Homo sapiens: one gene and its partner. The protein of the gene in region 2 interacts with the protein of the main gene of each other region in a pairwise test. Each region holds a gene or a part of one and is shown on either strand. Other genes may lie near its edges. The genes, in order: CARD10 and FAM47B.

Evidence for each region.
Region 1: the proteins of FAM47B (region 2) and CARD10 interact in binary tests that used the Homo sapiens proteins (3 or more experiments, as listed by UniProt).

Annotation. Positions count from the first base shown.
Region 1 is NC_000022.11:37,517,523-37,521,434, forward strand, and holds the start of CARD10 (caspase recruitment domain-containing protein 10), read right to left. Parts: upstream 1,894-3,912; 5' UTR 1,679-1,893; coding exon 1,444-1,678; intron 587-1,443; coding exon 449-586; intron 1-448. UniProt on the Homo sapiens protein: Scaffold protein that plays an important role in mediating the activation of NF-kappa-B via BCL10 or EGFR.
Region 2 is NC_000023.11:34,941,022-34,944,933, reverse strand, and holds FAM47B (protein FAM47B), read right to left. Parts: upstream 2,139-3,912; 5' UTR 2,103-2,138; coding exon 165-2,102; 3' UTR 19-164; downstream 1-18.

The DNA of each region.
Region 1 (3,912 bases), on a different chromosome or scaffold from region 2:
TCCCAGCTACTCGGGAGGCTGAGGCAGGAGAATCGCTTGAACCTGGGAGGCGGAGGTTGCAGTGAGCTGAGATCGCGCCACTGCACTCCAGCCTGGTGACAGAGCAAGACACTGTCTCAAAAAAAAAAAAATTCAAAGTCACCTGGAGCCTCTGTATTTTTTTACATAAAAAACTATACATCTGTGTATGTCAGACATATGTCTGAAAACAGTATCACGAAGAAAGAGCCATCTTAAGCATGTGGCTCTGAACTTGGAATAACGGCACTAGCACCCAGCCCCACCCTCAGCCTACCGTGGGGCCCTGGGCAAGCCCCTTCAGCCTCTCCATGCCTCAGTTTCCCTTACTGTTCAACAGGCATAGTGGGAGCGCCTCCCTAACAGGGATGGGGAAAGGAGCCTGTGCACTGGAGTCCGAGGTGCCAGCATCCACCGCAGATCCACTCACCGAGGATCATGGAGCAGCGCTGGGCGGGTTCCTGGCCCGTGAGCAGCGTGAAGTGTTCGGGGTAGTAGAACTCCAGGGCTTCCAGGAAGGCCTCATAGCCCCTCTTGCCACGGCAGCGCAAGATGTCCATCAGGCGCCCTACAGAGTAGTGGGGGGATGTACCCAGGGTCTAGGGGAAGGCCTCCCCAGGTGCCTGGTTGCTTCTGCCCCCACCATGCTCCAGGCCCACGTTCCCCAGATTTTTGAGCCAGTGACACACACAGGGGCCTGTCCCAACACATCAGGGAAGAGAAGAGAGCCATTCTGCCACAGCCAGGGGAGCACATTCCCTCATGACTCCTGGGCTCCCAGAGCTCCCCAACACCCCCCACAGACACAGATGCCGGCCCGCAAATGCAGCCTGCCTTTTCAATGGCACAGAGAAGCCCCCTCTATCCCCAGAAGCAAAGAAAATACTTCTCCCATTGGCCATGCCTGAAATTCCACCATTAAAGACCATTCCATCATGCCTTTTTGAGTTCTGGTTCAAAGGCACACCCTGTGGGAGTGGGGACCCACGTAAAGCTGAGACGGATCTTGACACTTGAAAAAGGACTCCCCCAGGAGTGTATGGTGCACAGAGGAGGGGACAGACAGAACTCGGAGATCAAAGAGCGCAGGAAAGGTGCCAAGTCCACCGGCTGTGACCGGGAGGTCCCAGGCCCAGCCGGCCCTGGCAGCCACATCCAACCTTCTGCTCTAATGTGGACCCAGGAAGTGGGAGAGAACCCCAAGAGACAAAACTCTGACCCCGGTGTGGGCAACGCGGACCGCCAAGGCGCAGTGGTGGGTGGGGAGGAGGCAGGCTGGTGGGCATACCCAGCCGGCCCACTCTACTGATGCGGAGACCGAGCCCCAGGGCAGCAGAGCCCTAGCTTCGCGCTACACGGCTGTGGGCGCTGCGCCCCAGGGCACGGCCGGCCCAGGTCGTGGCCCACTCGGGACCCGCGGCTCACCGGTGCGGTTGACGCGGCACGGGAAGCGGTAGGTGCTCAGCACCTCCTCCTCGTCCTGCTCGTCGATGACCCGGCACTGGCGCAGATACGGCGTGAGCTTGGCCGGGTTCAGGGCGCGAGCCAGCCGATGCCGGACGCCCTCGATTCGCTCCCACAGCGCGTCCTCCTCCGCCTCAGACCCCGAGCCGGCCCCGGCCTCCTCCTCGGCCTCCCCCGCCTCCGCCCGGCCCGGCATGGCCGTGTCCTCAGGGTCTGCGGGCAAGAGGCGCACGGGGGTCGACCAGGGCTCCCTAGGGCTAGATGTGCGGCCAAGCACCCCCGGGGCGTCGTCCGCAGACCCGCCGTCGGGGGCGCGCCCCGAGCTCCCCGCGACTCACCCCGCACGCTACAGTCGCCTCGGGCTCCCGGGTCCGCACTCGGGCGGCGGCTCCGCCGGCGCAGGGGGGCGGTGCCCGTGGCGCCCCCGGCTCCGCCCCCGTCCCCGCAGCCTCCTGGGCTGCCCGGGCCTCCCCACATTGCCGCCCGCCCCGGGTCGTGCGTCCGGCCCCCGGCCACCCCGCGCGTCCGTCTGCACGCCCTCCCTCCCGGCCGTCCGGCTGCGCCTCCCCCTGCTTCCTGTTTCCCGCCGGCTCTCCAGCCCGGCTCGGCGGGGTCCTGGCCGCCCGCCCACACCTGCCCGGCCTCTGGGCGGGGCGGGGGCGGGCAGGCGCGCTCACACCCCCCGCGCGCCGCGACACACCTTCCCCGGGCCACGCGCATCGCCTCCCCACGCCCACAGCGCGCCCGCCCGTGCGGGGCTAGCCGCTCACGCCCGGCGCAGCCCGCGGGCACTCAAGCTGGGCTTGCCCTTCTCGGGTCCCCACATGCACTGCGGGCGCGGGAGCTTCCCTGGAGCGCAGGACAGCCCCGCGGGGGACAGCAATGGGCAGAGGTCATGGGGGCTTTCTGCAAGATGGGGGTCTGAACCTGCAGGGCAGCACTGCCAACTCCCCTCTTACGCAAACTCCCGTGGCACTTGAGGACCAGGGACCCCACAATTCTCAAAGGGTATTCCTCCAGGTGTTGGTCCCAGAGATGCTGGGGGCGGGCTGTGACTAGCCATCCATACTCCCGCTCCTGCCTGGGAGGCCGGTGGTGTCTTACCATGATACTGGCCGAGTCTACACGGTATCTGCTGGTGCATGCGATACAGTCTCGCTATGCATTAGAAGCTGCCAGGTACCTGCTGCCAGGGAGGAACAGAGGAGGCACAACCGGTACAGGAAAGAGGTGTGAGCTCCCTAATCGCCTTCCACAACTTCTGAATTAGATGCCGTGGACATATGTATTACTTATCCAAAGAATTAAGGTTTCAATCAATAAAGGCTCTGAAAAGCCCTGCTTAAATTAAGGCCGGGGGCGGTGGCTCATGCCTGGAATCCCGACACTTTGGGAGACCGAGGCGAGTGGATCACCTGAGGTCAGGAGTTCGAGACCAGCCTGACCAATATGGCGAAACCCCATCTCTACTAAAAATATAAAAATTAGCTAGACGTGGTAGTGCGCGTCTGTAATCCCAGCTACTCGGGAGGCTGAGGCACGAGAATCGCTTGAACCCAGGAGGCGGAGGTTGCAGTGATATCGTGCCACTGCACTCCAGCAGCCCGGGCAACAGAATGAGACTCCCCCTCAAAAAAAAAAAAAAAAAAAAAAAAAGCCCCAGCAGTAAAGAAACAGATTTAACTTTATATATCCTGGTGTCCTTTTCCAAACTTAATTAACCACAGCCTTTTTTTGGTTTGCATTTGTTGTACATTTGTTTTTGTTTTGGGTGTCACCTGTTTACATGCAGAAGAAATGCTTTGGGAGAACTGAATTCTAGTGCAAATTCCTCAATTAACAAAGGAGGAAGCAGAGCTCAGAGAGGGCAAGGAACTTGCCCAAATTCACACAGCGAGGCCACAATGGGAATAGGCCGGAGCCCAGCCCCTGGCCTCTGTCCTCTCCAAGCCCCGAGTCCAGGCACACACCAGACCTCCCTTTCAATACGTCCTTCCCCTCTCTGTGGCCTTGGTTGCCCTCCCACGCAGAGCGGCAGCTCCTCCCACCAGCAGCCCTACTCCTCGTGAATATTTTTAACTTGGCCAGCAGAGCGGGATGGACGCCTTGGAAAATGAGGCTATGGTTAATTATTTTTTCATCGAGAAGCTAAGCAGGGCCTAAAGATAAGGCACAGAAGCCAAGAGGTCTCTGCAGATAAGTGGACAGAGAAGTGAGGGCACACTGGGTCTGAACAGGCAGGTAGCTGGGTACACCGAGTGCCCCTGGTGCCCAGCATTCCAGGGGAAGCGACAGAGTTCCTTTGGGTACCACACTCCCACATTCACATGTACAATTATACAGGCATGCACACGCACCATCACATACACATGCACACATACACACCCACCCACTGTGGGCATCAAGCCAGGCAGGAGGCAGACAGGGGCG
Region 2 (3,912 bases):
TAATGAGGCCAAAGCAGGTCATTAAGACATATTTATAAGCATTGGGTATTGAATTTACAGATGTTGCCAAAGTTGTACATTCACGGGGCCAGTCATCATAAATTCTGATTGATGTTTAGAATGAGAGCAAGAAATACCCAATTAAGCAGTAAATTGAAAACCATCTAATCTTCTTTTGATGCATCTGTGACGTCTTCTTTGTACTTGTAAACTTGCACTGCACGTTGAATAGGAGTCTTAACAGAGTCGTAAGTCCATCCCTTCTTGGCAAACAGCTTTTCAATGACGCCAGGCATTCTGTAGCCCTTGCTTAGAATGAAATCCTTAAAGGCAATTGGTCCATAAAGACCGTCAAGAATGTCGGGTTCATCAGGCTTTTCAAGTACGGGCTTGGGGTCAATCAAAGGTTCATCACTTCTTAGCTTTTTCCCCAACTTAGGCTCGAAGTACCATGGTCCATACCTTATCCTCCCACGCTGTGCACTATAAGAATGCGGTGCCGCCCGGCGTCTCCTGTCCCAGTATTTTATCCGTAAGAATTCGACCTCATCCATGTCGTCTAGCTCCATGCCGTACATCAGCCTTGAAGCACACTCGTTTGCCTTCTTAATCTTTTGGTCTTGATCGGTTGTTCTGCACTCAGGGGTAAAGTCAAACAGACTGCTGATGGATTCTTCATTAACTCCTAGGTCTCCAGCCCACTTGAAGTCACGGAGTTTTCTCGATGTGTGTCTACGTTGAAGAGAGTCAGAAACACACTCCATTGTGCTTGGTGTATCTTCCTGAAACAGTTCTTTTAGATGGGACGCTCCGGTCTTGGTAGGCTCCGGGCAGAGACTGGACACCCGACGAGTCTTGGGAGGCTTCAGGCAGAGACTGGCCATTCGACGAGTTATGGGAAGCACCAGGCGGAGATGGGGCATCCGACTCTCAAAAGGCCGCGGACAGGATTCCCAAAAATGGTATTTACCAGGCTTGGTGAGTTCCTCGGTTGTCATCTCCTGGCCCTCACAACGAGCCCGTGCGTCTTCCAGCTTCTTCTCAGAATCCAGTTTCAGCACCTGTAGTAGGAAACTGGACACCCGATGAGTGTTGGGAGGTTCCAGGCAGAGATGGGACACTCCAGCCTCGGGAGGCTCCGGGCAGAGACTGGACACCTGAGTCTTGGAAGGCTCTGGGCGGAGATGGGACACTCCAGTCTCAGGAGGCTCCGGGTGGAGATGAGATACGCGAGTCTCGGGAGGCTCCGGGCAGAGATGGGACGCTCCAGTATCAGGAGGCTCTGGGTGGACACTGGACACCAGAGTCTTGGGAGGCTCTGGGCAGAGATGGGACACTCCAGTCTCGGGAGGATCCACGCGGAGATGAGATGCGCGAGTCTCTGGAGGTTCCGGGTGGAGACTGGACACCCGAGTCTTGGGAGGCTCTGGGCGGAGACTGGACACCCGAGTCTTGGGAGGCTCTGGGCGGCGACTGGACACCGGAGTCTTGGGAAGCTGAGGACGGAGACGGGACACCGGAGTCTCGGGAGGCCGCGGGCAGGATTCCCCACAGGGATATTTACCAGACTCGGTGGGTACCTCGGTTGTCTTCTCCCGGGCCTCACAACGAGCCCAAGCGTCCTCCAGCTTCCTCTCGGGATCCAGCTGTTTCAGCACCTGTAGTAGGAGATCTGGAGGCATATCTTTTCCCAGATTGGGGTACATGGCCAAGGGATGCTTGGTCATCAGCTGGGCTTCCACTTCCTCTACGAACGCCTTCCGTGCTGGCTGTACTGGCGAGAGCTCGGAAAATAGGGCCGCTTTCTTGAGCAGCTTTTTCTTCCTGCTTTTGCGGTCAGCTTGGGGACCTCTGAGAGATATTTTGGGGAGTAAAAACTCGTCACGGCGACAAACAAGCGTATCTTCAGGAGACTGACAGGCGTAGCGGAAGTCGTCCATGCCCTCCGTCACAAATACCCAGTTCTGGGTGTCCACAGGCGGGAACCTCAGGCGCCTGTGCTTGCGCTTCGCGAAGTACTTGGAAGGCGGTTTGTCACAGTACCAGGGCTTGGAGTCCATGCCTTGGGACCTTGGCCGGTCCTGTGGCCTCCGGTCCCCCATGGTGGCCCTCTCTGTTGTGCCACCTCTCCAGCTTCTGAGGTTCCAGATCCCTGCCGCTCTAGTCGCTAGGAGACCGCCAGCCACACGCAGCCCAGGTTCCTTCCTGGAGGTGGGGCAGCGCTGACGCCACCTGCGCAGCCCGGATTCTAACAGGTGTGTAGTAGAATCTCATTCTGGGTTTCATTTGCGTTTCCTAATGACTACTGATATTGAACATCTCTATATTTGCTTATTTGCCATCCTTATCTCCCCTTGGTTGAAGTTTCTGTGGATTTTCCCCCCATTTTTAAATTGTGTTGCTGGATATCATATTTAGTTTTGAGAATCCTTGCTGTGTTCTAGATGTAAATAGGTTATCAGATGCATGATTTGCAAATTTTTCACTTCATCCTTGGCTTTGCTCTTTCATTGTCTGTGTCAAAGAGAAGTTTTTTAATTTGATGAAGTCCAATTTATCAATTTGTTCTTTTACGGATTGTGCTTCTTTTGATGTATCTATGAAAAACTTTGCCTATCCAAAGGTCACAAAGATTTTTTTCATTTAAATGCTATAATTTTTGTAAACAGCACAAGATATAGATCAAAGTTTTTATTTTAAAAATGTACCTATTGCTTACGCATATCTGATAATTTCAGAACTATTTTTATAAAGACAATCTTTTCTCCACTGAATTACATTCGGAAATTGGTAGAGTATCAGTTGTCTATTTGAAGGTCAATTTCTGGGCACTGTTTTCTCTTCCATTGATTTTTCTCTCACACAAATTTCACACTATCTTGGTTACTCTAGCTTTATAATAAATCTAGAAATTAGGCTGTACTAATTCTTTAACAATGTTCTTTTACAAAGTTGGTTCTTCTAGGTCCTTTGAATTTCTATAGAAATTTTAAAATCTGCTTGTCTATGTCTTAGAAAAAGTCCTGTTTGGATTTTGATTAGGATTCTGTTGAATCTATAGATCAATTTGAGGATAATTGGCATATTACCAATATGAAATGTTCTGACCACTGAGGAAGGTCATCTTTCCATTTGTTTATGTGATTTTTCATTTTCTCGGGAATATTTTTTATTTTTTAGTGTATGTGTCTTTCAAATCTTTTTCTCTCCAGATTTTCCCTAAATATTGTTTTTCATACTATTATATGTAGTTTTTTTTTGTTTTGTTTTGTTTTTTTTTGTTTTTTTTTAAGAGACGGAGTCTCGCTCTTTCGCCCAGGCCAGACTGCAGTGGCGCTATCTTGGCCCACTGCAAGCTCCGCCTCCCGGGTTCATGCCATTCTCCTGCCTCAGCCTCCCCAGTAGCTGGGATTACAGGCACCCGCCACCGCGCCCTGCTGACTTTTTGTATTTTTAGTAGAGACGGGGTTTCACCGTGTTAGCCAAGATGGTCTCGATCTCCTGACCTCGTGATCCACCCACCTCGGCCTCCCAAAGTGCTGGGATTACAGGCATGAGCCACCGCGCCCGGCCTGTAGTATTGTTTTTTAATTGCAATTTCCAATTTTTTGTTGTTAGCATATATAAATATTGAGTTTTGTATATCCATCTTGTATCATACAACCTTGGTAAACTCACTTATTATGTTCAGGAGCATTTTGTAGATTTCACTGAATTTTCTATATTTATGATAATGTCATCTGTGAATAAAGACAGTTTGAGGCCAGGTGCAGTGGCTCACGCCTGTAATCCCAGCACTTTTGGAGGCCGAGGAAGGCGGATCTCAAGGTGAGGAGCTTGAGACCAGCCTGACCTACATGGTGAAACTCCGTTTCTACTAAAAATACAAAAATTAGCTGGTCATGGTGGCGC